2 linked regions of the Homo sapiens genome follow. The protein of the gene in region 2 interacts with the protein of the main gene of each other region in a pairwise test. Each region holds a gene or a part of one and is shown on either strand. Other genes may lie near its edges. The genes, in order: KCNK5 and TSPAN33.

The links.
Region 1: the proteins of TSPAN33 (region 2) and KCNK5 interact in binary tests that used the Homo sapiens proteins (3 or more experiments, as listed by UniProt).

What each region holds. Positions count from the first base shown.
Region 1 is NC_000006.12:39,189,935-39,200,502, forward strand, and holds part of KCNK5 (potassium channel subfamily K member 5), read right to left. Parts: intron 6,054-10,568; coding exon 5,942-6,053; intron 4,827-5,941; coding exon 4,660-4,826; intron 4,404-4,659; coding exon 4,235-4,403; intron 1,822-4,234; coding exon 956-1,821; 3' UTR 1-955. UniProt on the Homo sapiens protein: K(+) channel that conducts voltage-dependent outward rectifying currents upon membrane depolarization. Voltage sensing is coupled to K(+) electrochemical gradient in an 'ion flux gating' mode where outward but not inward ion flow opens the gate.
Region 2 is NC_000007.14:129,146,206-129,156,773, reverse strand, and holds part of TSPAN33 (tetraspanin-33), read right to left. Parts: intron 1-10,568. UniProt on the Homo sapiens protein: Part of TspanC8 subgroup, composed of 6 members that interact with the transmembrane metalloprotease ADAM10.

The sequences.
Region 1 (10,568 bases), on a different chromosome or scaffold from region 2:
ACAGGGAAGGAGAAGACAGCAGGATTGGGAGTGCAGGTCCTGGGGCCAGCGGGCAGGGTGTGCAGTTCTCAGGCGGGCAGGAGGGGTAAGGGCAGAACCAGCCAGAGCTGAGCCTCACTCTTGCAGCTCCCTGGCCACCAGCCCTAGCAGTCCCGGCTTCCAGTAACCCATGCTCTGCTACTCTCCCTCCTACCACTTGGGGGCCCACAGAAAGCCTTGCGTCTGCCACTGCTTGACCTGAGACAGGGAACACAGCTCTGGGCTGGGCCTGAGTAGACCAACAAGGAGGATGAGGACCCCAGGCCCCAGGCCCACATAGGACTTGTTTCCAGGCCCTGTGAGTCAGGACTGTTTGAGACCCTGCCCTCATCTCCTCACTCCCACCTCCAGCAGCCTCCACCCCACTACGGTTTGTAGTAGGTGCCCGACCTGACCGGCAGGCCCACAGCTGGGATGCGGGCGGGCCCTGCTCCTGCTGTGGTACGGAAACACCTGACCCCACGCACAGCGGTACCTCCCCAGACACTTCAGAGCTCCCTCTCCAAATGCCGAGCTCAGTAATACCGGTAAACTTAAACAGCTGAGGCCCCAGACCTCAGAGAACCGTGTGATACTCCACCAAATGGTGAGACAAAGACCCTGCAGGCAAGGCCTCCTCAGGGTCAGTCCTGCCCACCTGTCCCGCCAGCCAGCATGTCTTTGCATTGTGAGATACACCAGCCAAGCTCAGGACAGATGCCCCCACAGCCAGGGTATGGTTCAGCTGGAGAACAGAGGCCCTGTCCCGGGCATACATCTAGCTGAGGATGATGGAAGGTTAGGAAGGCCCCTGGCCCCCCACTCCCAGTTCCGAGGCTGCCCCCCCACCAGGGGCCAGGCGTCCCGGTCATCTCGGGACACCCTAGGGTGAGGGGGGAAGAGGCCATCAAAGGTGGGGTGGGGAGCCGGCCCTGCCTCATGTGCCCTTGGGGCTGTTAGCCTTGTTGTACTCATTCATCAGCTGTTCGTAAGGCACAGAGAGCTCAGACTCAGTGCTGGTGAAGGTGGACTCGGAGGAGGAGGGGAACTCGCCCATGTTCAGGGGCGCCTTGGCTTCAGCCCCCTGCTGGGGGCTCTCCTCCCCTGCCAAGTTGTCCTCTAGCGAGGACTTGGAGGTCTCCTCGTCTGAGAGGCCAGCCTCCGTGTTCACGAAGGTGATGCTGGCGTCCTGGAAGATGAGTGGGTGGTAGTCCTGGGCGTCCCATGGCTCGCATTCCTCGCTGATGCGGTCCAGCTGGTTCATGAACACCTCGGGGGCAGGGGAGCTGTCTTCAGGGGCCCGTGCCACAGCCTCCTCATCTGGGGACCTTGATACGTGGCCTTTGCTCCTCAGTGTCTGTGACACCTCTTCCAAGGTGGGCACCCGGTTCTTGGAGTAGACTACCAGGGGCACCAGGGAAGGGGGCAGTGCTGGGAGCCCACCGCCTTGAGGCCCCAGCCCTGGGCCCGGGCCCGTCTCCCCACCCCCGCTTGTCTTCATGGCCTTCTTCCCGATCTGCTTGATGAGGTCGTTGTAGGTCTCTTCCTTCTTGGAAAGAAAGCTGAAGATGTTGACGTCCTTGGAGGCTGTGCTCCCCTTCACCTGCAGGGCCTTCCGGGAGTGTGGGGAGCTCTCAAAGGACTCCTTCCGTCGCCGCCGCCGCTTCTTAATGGCTTTGTGGACTTCCACAAACATGCTCACCTTCCAGTTGACAAAAAGGGACAGCCAGGCCAGCCCCAAGTAGATCCAGAGCTCCACGAAGTAGCGGTACAGGGCGTGGTAGTTGGCGCTGGGGTTCACACCTGAGCGGACAGGCAGTCCAGAGGTCAGGAAGAGTTAGCAGGGCCCGGGAAATGTGCAATGGCCAATGCTGTGTGATCTGAGCAGGGGTCAGGCCAGAGCACAGGACGGGGGTGCAGTGGGATAGAAAGGGGCCTGTTCTAGACCCTGGACTATCCCATCTTCCTCAAGGGCTTGGGCCTGCCATCATTCATGACCCCATCCCAGTCTCCAGCCTGTCTCTGAGTCTCGGTTTCCTCAACTAGAAACGTCAAGACAGGCCAGGCATGGTGGCTCACGTCTGCAATCCCAGCACTTTGGGAGGTCAAGGCAGGTGGATCACTTGAGGTCAGGAGTTCGAAACCAGTCTGACCAACATGGTAAAACCCCAGCTCCACTAACAATACAAAAATTAGCCAGGTATGGTGGCGGGCCAGCTACTCAGGAGGCTGAAGCAGGAGAACTGCTTGAACCCGGGAGGCAGAGGTTGCAGTGAGCCAAGATCACACCACTGCCACTCTAGCCTGGGCAGCAGACAGAGACTCCGTCTCAAAAAAAAAAAAAAAAAAAAAAAAAGTCAAGACAGTGACTCTTTGAAGGAAGCTAAAGGGGCTTTGGGGGACTGGCAATGTAACCGACACACAGGTCAAGAAACAGTTCATGAGTATTTGCCTTTCTGTTAATTCTTCTACCATCCCCAGCTGTTCTGCGTATATGATACAGTTCACTTAAAAACGGAATGGATGGATATTACACAAGGGAGCCCCCAGCACCCTCCAAGCTGGGGCTAGACTCACACTGGTGGATTACAAACAAGGCTGGTGGTTAGGTTGAGATGACCCAGGAAGCACCCACCGTGGCAAGAAACGCTGAACCATTTTTATTTTCATTGAAGGTCTGGTCTGCCTCCCTGACTTCCTCAGATCAGCTCTCCCTTGACCTGGAGGAGGGCTCTGTCTGCTCCACATCCCCCTCCTGCTGCAGGGAGCCTTCTTGGCTTACCCCCTACAGCTCTGAAGGTTCCCCCTACACTCCAGGATTATTTGAAATGTCGTTGACGACTACATGTACAGGCATGTTGACCTGTATTCCATTTGCCCCCTCGACTAGATACAAGAGCAACTTACAGAAGGGACCTGGAGGAAGGGGGCTACCTCTCTCATCAGACTAGAGGTTCCTCCAGGTGCTGTAGCCCGGTCAGTTCTCCTCCCACGACCGGGCTCAGATAGCAGGTGCCCTGAGTGGTCCTGTTAATCCTGCTCAAGGCTCTCAATCACAAGCAGAGTTTCATGATGACAGTAATGAGGGCACACACTGATATAGCCAGGCCCTACCCTTAACACTCATGAATAGTAATTATTATTTTTACTAATTTTACAGAAGAGAAAGCTGAGGCAGGGTTTGGTGTCTTGCTGGTGCTGAGAAAGTATGGCTAAGTGTACATCTGTATTTCCCTAATACCAGAGGCACCTCCTTAGCCTGCTCTGGGCCTCAAGGGCTGGACAATGGCAGGGTTGTGCCTTGTCCACATGTACTGCCCAGGACAGCAGGCCCGGACTTGGCAGGGTCAGGGGAGTGTTTGTGCCTCTCTTTCCTGTTCCTCCCCCAACTCAGCCAACTGCTCCCAGATGCCACATACATCAAGCACAAGGCTAGTGGCCTCCCACTGCCCTCTGGGCAAAAGGGAGGGGGTACAGAACAGAGGCCTCTGGAGCAGAAGTTGAGGTCACTGGGGTGGTGGGTCAACAGGGTCAAACAGGGTGTCAAGAAGATTAAGAACCAAGATGCTGTGCAGGCCACAAACACAAGTACATGTGTGGCTGGGGCCAGCTGGTAACAGGCCTTCAGACAAAGGGGCCAAAGAACCTCATCACTTCCCTGGATTAAGCAGGGGAGGAGTAGGAGGGAGTGTCAGGGCTGGGGGCAGGGCAGCTGGGGAGAAGGCCTCCCTTGTCTTTAAGCTGCTACAGCAGGAACAAAGCCCCAGGCCTCTGAGCCATGCCTTCAGGACACCTCCCTCCACTCTTGTGAAAGATGAAAGGCTGCTGAGGGCGTGGAGTGGGTGCTGGTGGGCTCAGGGGCTCCCTGGGTAGCAGGTACCAACCGTGCAGGCAGAAGGCCCTACTTGCAAGTCCCCCATGAAGCCAAGCTCAGGAGTCATGGGAGAACTGAGGGAGAGGAGATCAGAGACTGAGCAGAGAGGAAAGGAGGAGGAAAAAGGCCATGTCTGAGAAAGGGAACCAGAGAGAAAAGAGTTTTTTGTCATTACTCTGGGTCTTAGTTTCCTCTTGCAAATGGCAGAGTGGGTTGAGAATCCCACTGGGTAAGAGAAGTGCCCAGAACATGGAACCCTACCTAGGGCACCCCCAACATAGGTCTGTTGCACTGAAACCAAAGAAGCAGAAAAAGAGGTGGGAGGCAGAGGCAGGGACTCACCGGCCACAAAGTCACCGAAGCCGATGGTGGAGATGGTGATGAAGGAGTAGTAGAGGCCCTCGATGTAGTTCCACCCCTCAGTCACCATGAATACGAAGGGTGGGATCACCAGGTGGACTAGGACGCCCCACACGATGAAGATGACTGTGCACGTGATCTGCGCCTTCCGCTGATGGGGAGCAGGAGGCCAAGTCAGAGAATAGTGGAGACTTGGAAACCCAGCAAAGGCACCCAGAGGGCCAGGGAGGCAGCTAGAGGAGAAGCTAGCTGGGTACCCAGCCTGACCCGGGAGGGCAAGGAGCTCTGAAACTATCCTCTTGCCATCTGTCCTTACACCCTTGGTCCAATTCCTAGAGGCCTCCTGTCCTCCCCTCACCTGTCATGGTTCCCCCATCTCTGCCCAACACCCAGGGTAGGGGACATACCAGACTCACACCTCTCTTGGTAAGGAACTGCCCTAGTCTCTTGGCACGTCCCCCGAAGAACTTGCCCAGGGCACTGATCCACGTCAGGCAGAGCGGCACCCCGAAGAGACCATAGAAAACACAGAAGAGGCGACCGGCGGGGGTCTTGGGAGCCACATTGCCATATCCTGAGGAAGGAGAGAGTGAGGCCAAGAACAGGAGGGGTGGTCAAACCAGTGGGCCTTGCTTCCAACACACACACAGCCCGTTCTCTAAGATAAATTGATATTGATCTATTGTCAGTACTTAAGTAATGATATTTCCCTTGATCATACTCTGATCATGATCATTGATAAAGCAATTATGATGACATGAGCTGTATCTCCTCCATCATACAAGGAGCTCCCTGAAGGCAGGGACTAAGCCTGGTCAACAGGTCTTCCACTAGTCTATATGGTACCACTGTGCAAGTTATAAGACATGCTCTCTGTGTAGATTCCCCAGAAGCACTGTGGTAGATGGTCTCCAAAGATAGCCATCCTCCATTCCCTCCCTTCTTATGCAACTGCTCACATCAAGGTGTCATCTAATCCTCTTCCCTTGGAATCTGGGCTTTAGTGGCTTGACAACAGAAGCAGTCTAGGCAGCGGAAGAGACGCTGGACAGGTGAGGTCTAAGAAGCCTGCTGCTTTTCGCCTTGGTTCCCAAACACATGCGGAGGCCTTGTGTTTTCATCCCCAGCTGAGCTCCCAGCCAACAGCCAGCATCAACTGTCAAATCTGTGATGGGAGGAGCCATCTGGGCCATCAGATGAGTTTGGCTTTCAGAAGACTCCAGCCCAGCCATTGTTCGACTGCCACTGCATTGGGAGCCCAAGCAAGAACCAGCCAGCTGAGCCCAGTCAAGCTGACAGAATGGTGAAAGAGAAGAAGCTGCGTTCTGAGCCAAACTTCTGGACTGGTTGGCTATGCAGCCTGAGAACTGAAACAGACACCCAGCTTGGTAAGTAGTCATGATCTGGGTTTCTGCAATGAGCAGTCTGGTTAATCTCTTGCATGGCTCTGGCCATGAGGCTGTGTCATTGTTTCTGCTCAAAGAGCCCAGGTCAAGACTCAAGGAAACCTTCCCAGGCATGATCAGCTACCAAGGACTTAACAAATCCCTAAGAAAGTATCAAAAGAATAGCCTGCAACTGATCTGATTGTACCCCCAACAGGGCTGAGTGACCAGAGCTGGGTTTCTAGAAAGGTTCTGAGGAGCTAGGGCATGGATGTGGGTGTCCTACAGGTCCCAGAAGACTTACCAATGGTGGTAATGACGGTCGCTGCAAAAATCATTGCATTGGGCCAGTTCCAGTTGTTGAAGGTCTGGTTCCCTGTGATGGCCACACCCTGTCCTGCAGCATCAGATACCACCTAAAATGAGAAACAGTAAAGGTCAGAGCTGAGGCCACACTTAACAGATGCTGATTGACAGAACTGCACTAAACTCCTTGTAAGCATTTTCATTTAGTCATCACAAGAAGAAGGTGGCAGTGTCTCCATGTTACAGATGAAACATTGTATAGAGGATCAGAGAGGTTACCTGATTTACCCAAGGTAAAGATATGAACCCAGGCAATCTGGCTCCAAAGTTCATTCTTTCACTGAGTCAATGCTTCTCCAACTTACTAGCATGCACCAGGATCACCTGGAAATCTTGTTCAACAGACTGCTGGCCCCTACTACTCCGAGTTTCTGATTTAGGAGGTCTAGAAGGAACATTTCTAAACATGTTCCCAGGTGATGCTGTGGACAGGGACCACACTTTGAGAACCACTGCACTAGATTAATTCTGCCTCTCAAAAAAAGCACATGTGAGGCAGACACACACAAGGAGGTCCCCTGTGCCTCACCCAGCCCTCCATGGAGGGTGTTCTACCTGCAGAGACCAGGTCCTTGTTCAGGGTTGGCTGGGGAGGGGCCCCCCATATACCCTTCAGCCTACTGTAGGATACCTGCTCAGGTCAGCTCAGTGCCCTGTTGACTTGTCCTCGGAGGGCATGCAAATCAGCAGGTCCTCCTTTCCCCCAGCCTAGGACTCTAATGTACCCTCTCCCCTGTGGGATCTCACTTCCCTCCCTTCCCTGTAGCCCTTTCTCTCTCTGCCCTGGGCTGAGCAGCTGTCTGGGAAGGGACAGATCAGAGGGTGAGTACATTTCAGGGTGACTCATAACTGTGCTATCAATCCCCAAAGAGCTTCCAGTAACTGTGGATAGCAGGTGAGAGGCCACCTGGGGATGGGATGTCCCCCTGGAGAGTGCGAGGAGCGGTGGGGCAGAGGTGTGGGGAACTTATCTACTCCTACAATACTGACAGCTGCAAACCTGTTTCCATCTGACTAGGCCCCAATTCTGCTATCACCACTGGCTCCAACCTATCTGTGGGGCTTTATCAGCTGGCAGGGCCTGGACCCCAGAAGTCACATAAGAAGGGACTCTAAATCTGGGGCTCAAGTCCTGTCCCCAAGGAGCGCCTGCAGATGGGTAGGCCATCCAGACCAGAAGCTAGGCATTCAGCCAAATTGCCTATAAAAACCAAGACAAGGACTGAGAGAGAAGAGACAGAAGAGTGAGGGATGGAAACAGAGGGAGACAAAAAAAACCTTGTTTCTAACCTACCCAGAGCATGACTGAGGTTTGGTGGGAAAAAAAGGGCATGGGTGGGTTGTTCTGAAGGAAAGTGTAATTTGCAGAAGCAGCAGCCGGCCTGCGTAAATGGATCTGCACACTCTGCAAAGAATTTTCCATGATGGCACGCTTGTCTGTCAGACCATCAAACCACACAGCTCACTGCGCTGCCTCCTCCGGCATTTCACAGCATCTCCGAGGCTACGAAGGCTGTGCAGCATCAAAGTGGAAAGTGGGGACCATCGCATCAAACTCTGGCCAAGGCAGCCCCTGCCCTCAGAGAGCTCTCTGTCTAGCTGGCCAGACCATTTCAATGTGAAATGGCTAAAGGACATTTAGATACTAACAGGCCAACAGGAGAGCTAAAACAAATACTAAGGACCATCCAATGGGTTTCTGAAAACATCAAATCTGTTTGGAGCAAGAGAATGAGGAAGTACCAGGGCCACGTTAATGTTAAACAGATGGCAGAGAAAGCGGAACCACCCAGCTCTCCTTTGGCATCTACCTTTGCTACCTCAGATATCGATCTTGAATGGGACCGGCCTACAAGAAAAGAGTATATAAGAACATACAAGAACATCTTGAAATGATAATTGAATCACTGATCACAGGTGAGGCTGCAGCACCACCTCTGGTCATCCCCATGGAATCATGGGGAACAGGAAAGATGTCAGAAGACAAGCTGTTCCCATTTTTCACAAAAAGGAAAAGAGTGGATTCTAGAAATTCAGAAAACAAACCTGAACTCTTGCAAACTTCAAAATGGGGAGAGGAGAATGTTTGGAACATGCAGAAGAGGAAGTAGTGGGCACTAGAAACTAGCACAGATTCACCCAGAACAAGTCATGCTCAGCTAAGTGCATCTCCTTTTCAAAGGGTTGCAAAGCCTTGAAGTTCTGTGGAATGTAATCCATCTAGATATCAGCAAGGCAGCTAACAGATGGGATTAAAGAAATTCATGTGGACAAGACACAGAAATGTCAGTGGAGCCAGGATTAATTGGGTCCATTCAAAGGCAGACAAACAACCCTAGGAGGTATTGATCATTATCAACCCAGACTGAGTCTCCACCATCATGCTTAAGGCCTGGTTTTCTTCAATATTTTAAACCACAGCACAGTGAGGACAGAGATGGTTTACTAATCCAATGTGCAGTGGATGCAAAATTGGGGATAAGGATGGGATGGGAAGATAGCTAACACATAGCAATGGCAGTATCAAGATTCAAAATCATCTGGCTGGATATAGGGGCCAAAATCAACAACATACAAGTATCCACTTAAATGTTTAAGTCTTATACTTTGGATTGGAAAAGACTGGTAGAGGATTGAAGGGAAAAGTCCCTGGATATTAGCTGACCATGGATCAACAAACAGTAATCCTACTGTCCTGCTGTCACAAGAAAAGTAAATGCAATCTCAGGCTATGTCAACTCCAGGTCTATCCAGGGCTGGGAGGTAACAAGCCCACTGTTGCTTGCAGGGTCAGGCCATATATGGGGCACCTTGTTTCATTCTGGGTGTCAGACTTCACATGATATGCTAACCAACAGGCCAAAGTCCAAGGGGGAGATGGGGTGGCTGTTTTGGATAATGAGTCTACAAAGGGCTACTCCTTGTAGTAATCAATTTCTGATAATGCAAAGTATTTAGACCAGGGTAGCCAGCATCCATCAAGGGTGTTGTGGAAGGTATGTCTGGAACAGGGGTTCTCCACTGGGGTGGTAGTGCCTTTTGGAAGTGTCTGGAAATGCTTTCTAAGGAGGAATGTTGCATGTACCAGGCACTGTTCTAGGCAGTGAGTATACTGCAGTGAACGGACGGAATCCCTGCCCTCCTCTTATGTTTATTCTAATGGGTGATGGGAGATGCTCTGGCATTGAGAAGGCAAGGGGCTAGAGATGCTAAATGCCCTGCAATTCACAGGACAACCACACCCACAAGGCCAAAAATGCTCCCCCTGGGAAATGCTAGTGCCAAAGGTAACCTGTGATTTGGGAATCATTTAGTAAGTGCTAAGGAGACATCAAACAAAAGAACTGGCAAAACAGGGTAACTGAAGAAGGCATTAAGTTTGGGAGTGGGGAGAGGTGGAAGAGCTGGGCTTTCTACCCTTCACCCCACTGATGGTGTGCCCTTTGGGGACCAGCTGGCAGCCTCAGGCCCTGGCTTATCAGGCAGCCACAGCATTATGTGCTTTCCCCATGACTTCTAGTATCCCTCTGTGGTTGCCCAACAAGGGGCGGGCAAAGGAGGCACTGGAGAGAGCCCCTAACTCCCCGGGGCTGCAAGCACTACTCATTCCTTGCAAAGACCCAGTGGTGGCAATTACACCCACTGGGCGGAGAGAGGTTGGTTACCTGGCAGAACTGGGCTAGGTTGTAGACTGTCTGGTTTCAAGTCTGCAAGTTCAAGCCTCCCTGCCTCCATCTGCCTGGGTCTGCCTGCCCCTGGGCTGCCCCACTGCCCCTTGCGGTTGCCTCCTCTGCTGTGGTTCCCAAGCAGCTGGCCTGGGAATCAGCTCAGCTCCACCCAAGTGCTGGTGGAGAGAAGCTGTGCTAGTGCTGCTGTATGTCAGACACCCCTCGCCGGGGCTTTTACACACGTTACCTAACTGGCTCTTCCTGTCATTCTGCCAGGCATCACTTGGCAGAGGAGGAAAGCCAGGCTCAGGGAGCTGAGGTCTGGATGTGAATTTGGGGTGCTAGCTCCCTATTCCCACTGTGTGTATCTGTGGATACCTCACTGATCATGGCTGGGATTATGCAGGAAGAGGAGGGGGCTTTAATTGGTCTCCCAGAACAGAAAAGCTGACCCAGGACTAAGGCCATCACTGGGTTAGGGGAAGGGACATGGGAGAGCCAGGTAAACACCCTGTCAGACAAGGCGTCCCGTCCTCGGGGTTAGGGAAACAGCTTTCGCGGGAGGAGGCGGCCCCTGTTCACTGGCTGGATTCTTTAACTTGGCTCCCAAATTCACACGAGACAATATTTTCATTTTCCATACAAGCCTGGAGAGTAATGGGAAAAGGGGAGCCTGCACAAAGCTCAGGCCCAGCTCTTGTTTGGGAACGGAGTAGAGTTCCCTGTCTCCATCACCGTCACCATAAAGCAGCTGTGATTTACGGAGGGCTTCCTATGTGCCAAGAGTTGGGTAAAGCATTTTATGTGCCTTTAGCTCATTTAGAGAGGACAGATTCTTGCTGGGAAGATACTATAATTTTTTTCCATTTTGCAACTGAGGATTTGAGGCTTACAGAG
Region 2 (10,568 bases):
GAGCCTAGAGCATCTTGTAGTGCCCCAAAGAAAGGAAATGCTCACGAAGAAACAAAAATGAATTCCCCACATCAGTATCCTCATCAATGTGAGCATCCCAAAGGGACACAGAAGCCAACTGAAAGAGCTCCCAATGGCCAAGGCTAGAACAATTTGAGCACCGAAATAAAGAAATATTGAATTATTACCCAAAATAAAAAATACACATCTGTGGGCCCATGCTGATATAAATAAGTGACTTAATGAATAGCAGAGAAAAGACAAATCTCCTACATAGAAGAATTTCAAATAATTCATGTAGGTACTCCATCCTCAAAGAGGTAGAGCTTAACTCCTTACTCCTTCAGTGCAGACTGTGCATAGTGACTTTCTTCCAAAGAGCACAGTGTGGAACATGGGGAGAAAGGCTAACTCTACAGCGGAGGAACCTGATAAACACTACTTCATCCAGGCGATCGAGGCCAACATCAACAATGATCATGTTGCTGAATCACTTGTATGATATGATATGATGTGATGTGATGAAAATGGCACTTGACTTCTCTGGTCTTCCTCCCAAAAGCCATAACCCCAGTATTACAATGATGAGTAAAACAGCAGGCAAGTTCCAATAAAGGGACATTCTACAAAATACCTGACCAGCACTTCCCAAAACTGTCAAGGTCATTAAAAACAAGGTAAGTCTAGGAAACTGTCACAGCCAAGAGGAACCTAAGGAGACATGACAACTAAATGTAATGTAGGGCAGGACATGGTGGGCCACGCCTGGAATCCCAGAACTTTGGGAGGTCGAGCGGGGAGGATGGTTTGAGCTCAGGAGTTTGAGACCAGCCTAGGCAACGTAGACCTCATCTCTACAAAAAATAAAAATAAAAATAAAAATAATCTGAGTATGGTGGTGCATGCCTGTAGTCCCAGCTACTTGGGAGGCTAAGGTGGGAGGAGGATCGCTTGACCCCAGGAGGTTGAGGCTGCAGTGAGCCATGATTGTGCCACTGCACTCCAGCCTGGGTGACACAGCAAGACCCTGTCTCAAAAAAAAGAAAGAAAAAAGTAATGTAGTATCTTGAATAGGATTCTGGAACAGAAGGATATTAAATAAAAATGAAAAAAAAAACCAATAAAGTGTAGACCATAATGATAATACTATTAATTACAACAAATGTATCATACTAATGTGTTAATAACAGGGAAAACAGAGTATGGGGTATATAGGAACTCTCAATACTATCTTAAAATGTTTTTAATTGATATATGTAAATTGTATGTATTTATGGGATACATATGATATTTTGATACATGTGTACAATGTTTAATGATCAAATCAGGGTATTTAGAACATCCACCACCTTGAACATTTATCATTTGTGTTAGAAGCCTTTTAAATTTATTTTGAAAAATACAATATATTGTTGTTAACTATAGTCACCCTACTGTGCTGTTGAACACTAGAACTTATTCCTTCTATGTGACCATATGTTTGTACCTATGAACCAGCCTCTTTTCATCCTCCTGCCCCTGGATCCCAGCCTCTGGTAACTCATTCTATTCTCTACCTCTATGAGTTTCACTTTTTTAGCCCTCAAATATGAGTGAGAACATGCAATATTTGTCTTTCTGTGCTCAGCTTATTCACTTAACATAATGACCTCCAATTCTGTCTATGTCACGAATGACAGGATTTCATGCTTTTTTATGGCTGAATAATATCCCATTATGTATATGAACCATATTTTCTGTATCCATTCATTTGTAGATGGACACTTAAGGTTATTCCATTTCTTGGCTATTGTGAATAGTGCTGCAGTAACATGGGAGTGCAGATGTCTCTTCAATATATTCATTTCTTTTTCTTTGGATAAACACTCAGTAGTGGGATTGCTGGATTGTCTAGTAGTTCTATTTTTTGTTTTTTGAGAAACGTCCATCTCTGTACTATCTTCTCAATTTTTCTGTAAAATTGTTCTTGAAAAATAGTCTATTACCTCCTCCCACCCCAATTTGTTAGTTTATACTTTTTATTTTATTTTTTGAGACAGAGTTTCGCTCTTGTTGCCCAGGCTGCAGTGCAATGGCGCGATCTCGGCTTACTGCAACCTCCACCTTCCAGGTTCAAGCGATTCTCCTGCCTCAGCCTCCCAAGTAGCTGGGATTACAGGCATGAGCCACCACACCCGGCTAATTTTGTATTTTTAGTAGAGACAGGGTTTCATCATGTTGGCCAGGCTGGTTTCAAACTCCTGACCTCAGGTGATTCACCCGTCTCAGCCTCCCAAAGTGCTGGGATTACAGGCGTGAGCCATCACACCTGGCCTATACATTTTTTAACATCAGATTTTCATAAACTAGGGTTCACTTGCATACAGTTTTACAAACTGTAATCTGGGTGATTTCCCATCAATCACACCAAAACTTAAGGCAGTGGATCTTTTTTTCTTCCCCCCACCAACAGACAAGGTCTCACTCTTGTGTTGCCCAGGCTGGAGGGCAGTGGTACAATCATAGCTCATTGCAGCCTCAACCTCTTGGGCTCAAGAGATTCTCCTGCCTCAGCCTCCTGAGTACAGGCACATGCCATGACACTCACCTGATTTTTAAATTTTTGGTATAGATGTGATCTTGCTAGGTTGCCCAGGCTGGTCTTAAACTCCTGGCATATGGTGATCCTACCTCATTGGTCTCCCAAAGTGCTGGGATTACAGGCATGAGCCACCATGCTTGGCTAAGATAGTGGATCTTAAAATTGTTCAAGTGACAGAGCACTGGGAAGTCACAGTGCTCTGTTGGTGTACATTATAGATTTTGTCATATTCTTCTTCTTTTTTTTTCTTTGAGGCAGTGTCTTGCTTTGTCACCCAGGATGGAGTACAGTGGCACAATCAAGGGCTCACTATAGCCTTGACCTCCTGGGCTCAAGCAATCCTCCTGCCTCAGCCTCCTGAGTAGCTGGGACTACAGACACATGCCACCAACTGGGCTAATTTTTAAATTTTTTTGTAGAGACAGGGTTTCACCATATTGCCCAGGCTGGTCTTGAACTCCTGGGTTCAAGTGATCCACCCGCCATGGCCTCTGAAAGTGCTGGGATTCCAGACATGAGCCACTGCAACTGATCTTTTTTAAACTTTAATACACTATTACTGTGACCTAATTTACAGTCCATATGTAACTTTCCCCAATTATCCCCAAAATGTCCTTTGTAACCTTTTTTTTGTTTCTTATCCAGGATCCAATCAAGGATCATGCATTTAGAGATTAACTCTCCTTCAGCCTGGAACAGTCTCTTGGCTTTAATTCTTTTCTCTTTAATTTTCTTCCTTTGTTTTTGGTCTTTAAGACACTGACTTTAAAATTTATGGTAAAATACATGTGACACAAAATGTACCATTTTAGACATTTTAAAGTAAACAGTTCAGTGGCCTTTAGTACATTCACATGGCTGTGCAACCATCACCACCATCAGGGTGCAGTGCTTTATCATCACCCCAAATAGAAACCCTGTACCCATTAAACCATCACTCCCCATTCCCATCACCCTGTCCTCCGCCCCCAGCCCCTGGTAACCACAAATCTGCTTTCAGTCTCTATGGATTTGCCTATTCTGGACATTTCCTGTCATTGGAATTACATACTAGGTGACCCTCTGTGTCCGGCTTCTTTCACTTAGCAGAATGTTTTCTTTTTCTTTTTCTTTTTTTTTTTTTTTTTTTTTTTGAGACGGAGTTTCACTCTTGTTGCCCAGGCTGGAGTGCAGTGGCGCAATCTCCGGCTCACTGCAACCTCCACCTCCCGGGTTCAAGCCATTCTCCTCCCTTAGCCTCCCGAGTAGCTGGGGTTACAGGTATGTGCCACCAAACCTGGCTAATTTTGTATTTTTAGTAGAGATGGGGTTTCTCCATGTTGGTCATGGTGGTCTCGAACTCCCAACCTCAGGTGATCCTCCTGCCTTGGCCTCCCCAAGTGCTAGGATTACAGGTGTGAGCCACCCGCGTTCGGTTCACTTAGCAGAATGTTTTCAAGATTCATCTGTGTTGTAGCATGTGTTACAACTTCATTTCCTGTTTGTTTGTTTGTTTGTTTGTTTTTTGAGATGGAGTCTCACTCTGTCACCCAGGCTGGAGTGTAGTGGTGCAATCTCAGCTCACTGCAACTTCTGCCTCTCAGGTTCAAGCGATTCTTGTGCCTCAGCCTCCTGAGTAGCTGGGATTACAGGTGCATGCCACCACAACAAGCTAATTTTTGTAGTTTTAGTAGAGGCGGGATTTCCCTATGTTGGCTGGGCTGGTCTCGAACTCCTGACCTCAAGTGATCTGCCCGCCTCAGCCTCCAAAAGATTACAGGCATGAGCCACCGTGCCCTGCCAACTTCATTTCCTTTTATCGCTGAATAATACTTGGTTGTGTGACTGTAACACAATTGTTTCTCCATGCCTCCATTGGTAGACATTTGTGTTGCTCCCACCTTTTGGCTGCTGTGGATAGTATTGCTATGAACATTCATGTAAAAGGTCTTGTTTGAATACCTGTTTTCAATGTTCTCTATACCTAGGAATTGCTGAATCATATGGTAATTCTATGTTTAATTCTTTAAGGAGCTGCCAAACTGTTTTCCACAGCGGCTGTGCCTTTTTACTTCCCCACTAGCCAAGTGTGAGGGTTCCAGTGTCTTCACATCCTTCCCAACACTTGTTCTGACATTTTTTTGGACACTGACATTTTTCATGTTCCGGCCAATTGTTTTGCAGAATGTCCCTCGATTTGGATTTATTTGTTTGTTTCCTCACAGATTCAGATTACACATATTTGACAGGAATATTACACAGATACTGCTGTGTCCATCTCAGTGTATCATGTGAGGAGGCAAACATATTAATTTCTACTACAGAACTAAGGAACAATTTTACTAAGAGATGTGGCTGCTAGGTGTATGTCTCTGCGTTTCATAAAACAACGCAGGCATACTCTAAATAAATTGTTTCCTAGTTTTCCATAATAGTTGCTACTTGTCCTCTTCTGCTTGCCTTTTGTTAGCACTTGCAGGCAGATAAGCAGTTGCAGGTACTAATGTTCATGGGAGAAAGGAGAAAATGAAGAAAATTTTCTTATCTTGACTTTTTTTCTTGCAAATTGGGAAAAAATAGTCATGATTTGATGTTTAAAAGGAGAAACCCTTATTCTAGCCCACAAGACAGTACTTCAGGGCCATCAGTAATAGGAGAGGAAAGGTTGCAGGGCCTCAACTTGAGGTCCTAAACAAAGGTTGTTCTCCTGGCTCTTATGCCCAAATGCCAATAATTACAGGCAAATTAGCTCCCAGAGTCCATCTCTACTGGATTGCATTTAAGATCAAGGTAGGGCCAGGCATGGTGGCTCATGCCTGTAATCCCACTACTTTGGGAGGCCAAAGTGAGGAAGATCATTTGAGGCCAGGATTTGAAGACCAGTCTGGGCAACACAGTAAGTCCAGTCTCTAAAAAAAAATTAGCTGGGCATGGTGATGCATGCCTGTAGTCCAAGCTACTCAGCAGGGTGGGGTGGGACGATTGCTTGAACCCAAGCAGTCGAGGCTGCAGTGAGCTGTGATCCCATCACTGCACTCCAGCCTGGGTCAAAGAGCAACACCATGTCTAAACAAACAAACAAATAAACAAATAAATACGTAAATAAAAGTTTTAAAAGGCCAAGGTGGTGTGACAAGCCTTGAGAAGCAGAGCTAGGGAAGCCCAGGAGACAACAGTGGAGCTCTGTTCATGGGATATATAGGAAGTATCTCCATAAACTAAAAAATATAAAGCTACCAATAATGATTGTCTCCTGCTTAGCTTTTTTTCTTTTCTCTTTGATTTTCTTCCTTTGTTTTTGGTTTTCCTTTGTTATGGTGAGAATGTGAGCAAAGAGGGTTGAGCAAAGGCTGGCCCTTCCCTAGCCAGTCCCTGTCTGCTTGCCACTCTCTTTCCTCCTCCCTGGAGGAGCGCTCAGCCTCACTCTCCACGCCCACCCCCAGCAGGTGACCTCTAGGAGCATTTACAGGGACAGCAGTGGCAGTACTTTTTGTTGAGTGCTAAGGACCAGGCGCTGGGCTAAACACTGTCTCATTTAATTCTGACCACAAACCCAAGAGGGCATTAGGATCTCCATTTTATAGAGCTGATGTTCAGAGAATTCCAGCAACTTTCCTCAGTTCACATGGCTAGTGAGCGGCTGAAGTGGGAATGGAACCTAGGTCTGGATGTCCCCAAAGCCTTATGAGCTTGGCCACTTGGCTGCCTTCCTATCTCTGCCTCCCAGTACCCCCAGGATTTTGCCTATTCACATCAGCCATCATGGGAGATGGGAAGCAGCTGCTTGTGGTTCCCTTGGGGGAGCAGCTGATAATCTCCAAATGGGCTGGTTTTCAGGCAGGGGAAGGAAGATTGCAGCTGGCGGCGGGGACAGGGTGCCAGCAGGGCCCAGGAGGTGGCTCAGAGGGAAGTCTCTGGAACAGCACTCTGAAAAGGGAAGGCATGGCGTTGCCACAGTGGGGCCACCAGCAGGCGTAGCCTCCAGGGAAAGCCCTAGCCTTGTCTGTCTTCCATAGTCCAAAGTCCAGGCTGCAAGAAGCAGTGGAGCCCCACTGTCTCAGGGCCCGCACCCCCTCCTTAGAATCTCTTTCCCTCCTGTTTTGAAGGTGATGGTGGAGACAGCTGAGGGTAAAGTGGTTCCCTGTGTGGCAATCAAAACCCTGTCCCTGCCCAGAGGGAAGTGGGCAAGGCAGTGGTCTCCACCTCTGGTTTCTCAGTCCTCCCTACCCTTATATCTGGATGAAGCCAAAGAGCTTTCAGCCTGTGGCCCCGGAGTAGGGCCACCTCTCTCCCTGCCCGTGACCTTCACATACTGGTCTTTCTGTGCTCTCCATGGCGCTGCTGTTATGGGTGTCTGAGGTGGCGGCTGTCCATGGGAGGCTGGCTGTCAGCGCTCTCCCTCTGGATTGGGGGACACTGTCCCCCTGGAGTGGAGGAGTCCACAGGGCTCCTTCCTCAACAATGTCCGGGGCCAAGCCTTTGGCATCTTCCTCAGGCCACGGCTGGCTTTGTTCTTCCAAGGTTAAGAAAGAGGAAGGGAGGTCTGCAAGGGCTTGCAGTAAATAACCATTCAAACTCAAAGCCCCGGAGGGACTGGCCCAGCACTAGCCTCCTAAAAAGATCTGAGAGGCACTCTATGTTTTCTTTTTTCTTTTTTTTTGAGACGGAGTTTCACTTTTGTTGCCCAGCGTGGAATGTAATAATCTCGGCTCACTGCAATCTCTGCCTCCCAGGTTCAGGTGATTCTCCTGCCTCAGCCTCCGAAGTAGCTGGGAATACAGGTGTGCACCACCACACCTGGCTAATTTTTGCATTTTTAGTAGAGATGGGGTTTCACCATGTTGGCCAGGCTGATCTCGAACTCCTTACCTCAGGTGATCCACCTGCCCCGGCCTCCCAAAGTGCTGGGATTACAGGCATGAGCCACCGCGCCCAGCCTTCTTTTTTCCTTTTTAAAGGCTGCTTGACGTTTATGGTTTTCTACTTGGTACAGGGCAAACAAAGCTGCTGGGAAGTTAAGAAGTGTGCACGCGACCTGCATAGCAAAGGAGATGGTTCTTGTCTTCATTTCCCATATTTTGTAATTTTCGTTGTTTTTATAAAAAGCATCTGTCTTCAGTTATGGAAGCCAGCCAAGTCTATGGGGAAGACGGCGGGGGTGGAGGAGGGAGGTGGTGGGCTCTGCCTCCTAGTGTATTTGGAAGTATAGGATGAGGGGGTTGGATGGCAGAAAGGGCCCCTGCCACTTAGAAGAGGTTTTTGCCTGGCTTGATGCCTGGTTACTTCCTCATGGTTTTTGAGCCAGACGAAAAGAAATGGTGCTGAGAGTGGCCTGGGTGATTCTGAGTGCCCAAGGACTCCAATACAGTAGTCCTGGATGGGAGAGTGGATTTCTTGAAGAAGATGCCCCACTGGTGGCTTGGCTCAGCCTAGGGAAGACCTGGACAAGGGTGCATATATGTGGCAGTGGAAGTGAGAAAATCCAGATGCTGTAGGCAGTAAGTACGTGTGGCTCTGAGGAGGGGATGGCTGCCATGTTTCTGACCTGGCTTAAGTGGAGGGTTGCCAGGCCGCCAGACCCACCACAGAGGAGAACACAGTTGGGTACCTCATCACCAAGAGTGCTCAAGGACCCCAGGTTGAGCTGCATCTTGACAGGCCAGTGTCCATGAGGAAGGGAGGATGGGCATCAAGCCTCTACCCTGTGGGGTTTGCTCTCTCACTCACCATCCAATAAACATTCAGTAAGCACCCAATTTATGCCAAACACAGCTGGGCACTGGGGATCCAGAAGTGAATAGGGCCGTGCCCACCCTCGAGAGCCCGAAGTCTAGAGGGGGAGACGGAGAAGTAAACACAATTGCAGCACAGGTAAGGGATGTGACAATAGAAGAATACAGAAGGTGCCATGGGAGCCCTGAGGCATGGCTGCTAGGGAAGCCTGGGCTGAGACACAGGGGCTGGAGGTCTGAGCTTCTGGGCTCTGCCTGACTCAAAAGCCAGCCAACTGCTGCCCTGAGTGGGAAAAGGACCAGCGAGGAAGGAGGTGGGCGGCACTGAATATTCCTGACAACACATGGCCAAGCTGAGAAAGCAGGCACCACCCCAATATCTGCACGGAGCTGTCCTGCAGAGGGAGGTGAGGAGAGGCAGCTGCTCTGTAGCCACCCTAACTGATTTAAATGCAACATCTAGGATCTTAGAGCAGCTACTCCAGGCCATGGAATCCCCACAGTCAGTAACCCAGCAACATGATTCTGGGAAGAAAATCAGAACTCCCAGGTCAAAGGGGAAGTGAGATTTGAAACATGAACAGTAGGAACTGGTCCCAGTCCCCCAAAATTCATTAGTTTTCTGAGTCAGACTCCAAATGCCCCAAGAGTCAGGGCTTCTAGAGCAACAGCAGACGTAGCCACCATCACCACCAGCACCACTATTCAGAGCCCAGAGGATGCCGGACACCTTCCTAGTGGGTTCCAGGCACAGACACAATAACCACTGCCATGCGGCAGCTCCAGAAGCCGGCCAGAGCATGCACTCTGCCTGCAAAGGGTGTGGGCTGACCATCATCTCATCCATAGGTGCTTCCTGGGCAGAAGAGCAGAATTTGATTAGGATGGTGGAAGTCTACAAAAAAGAAAGCATGGGAACCAGTCCCTGAAGAGGAGCTAGGAAGAAAGATGGCCCCCTGATCTGGGGAGGCAGCATTTTCTCTCCAGCTGCTCTTGTATGAATATACCTGTGCAGCACTGGGTTTGGGGGAGAAGGGACATTCAATAACACCTGAAAAGTACTGTCCCCTAGGAAGGGCAATCAGGACACAGGGAGATTCATCCTTAGATCCAGCTCTAGGTCTTGAAGAAAGAAAACAGTCCCCAAAATGATTCATTCATCCTTAAATAGTTCACTGAGGCAGAAATTGTTTCTCCTTTAGAGGAGAAAGATTAAGGTCAGAGAGACAGATACATTGGCTTAGGGTCACACAGTAAGTTGGTGCCAAAAAGATGCTGAGCCTCTTGTCTTTCAGTGTGCTATTTCTAGAGCCTCTGATTTTTTATGAGTCTACTGTAGGGCCAAGAAGGGGCTCTATTCTAATTTGGGGTGGTGCTAGCTTGGCCACCCACGTCTTCTGACCTTGAATGAAGCATTTTTACCAAGGTAAATGGGTCTGTGGAGCCAAACTCTCTCCTGGCTGAGATCTCTCAAAGTCGTTTGTCCGATAAAAGGGGGGTAGGGTGGAGGTAGGGGGTAGGGAAGCTCGAGAAAAAAAAAATGACCAGGAACACAAGTGTAACAGATGCACCCAGCTGTTGTCACTGGCGAGCACAGACAAGGGTGAGGTACCAATGGCTCCAAGGGAGACAGTCTCGGCAGATAAAGGAAGTCAGAGTGACGACCTAAAGTCCCTGAAATGCTAGTGCTGGCTCCGAGGATGTCACGTCACTGGCCTGGCACACTCAGTGAGCACAGAGACTTCACTGATACTTGCCCCTAAGTGGGGAGTCTCTTAGTACATCCCCCAGCACTGGTAGAGTGGTAAGGGATTTTCTTGTGTTTTTCCCTAACCTCCAGCTGAAGCAGAACCTAGACTATGGGAACTTGGGTTGACTGGTTAACTACTAATACTGCCCATACCCCAGCTATAGCAGCAGCCATCTGTGCTGAGGACTTCCCCCAGCGGCACTGTGGTTCAGTAGAAAGGTCACCAGACCAAGCCTGCTAACCAGCTGTTGGACCTTGGACAAAACATTTAACATCTCTGTGCTTTAGTTTTCTACATTTTATAGACATAAACACAGATGCTGGACAAGATGTCTTCTAAAATTTTTTTCCAGTTTTACAACTGAGCATTTGATAGGAGCACAAGTTTCATTTTCCCCAGGAGTAGGATGGCTGAGTGCGCTGTCATCACCACCCTATGGGATTTCTCTCATTTGTCCCAACAGGCCAGCACTTATGGGCTTTGTGTCTGCACCTCACCCCACGGGCCCTGTGAAACCTTTCCAGC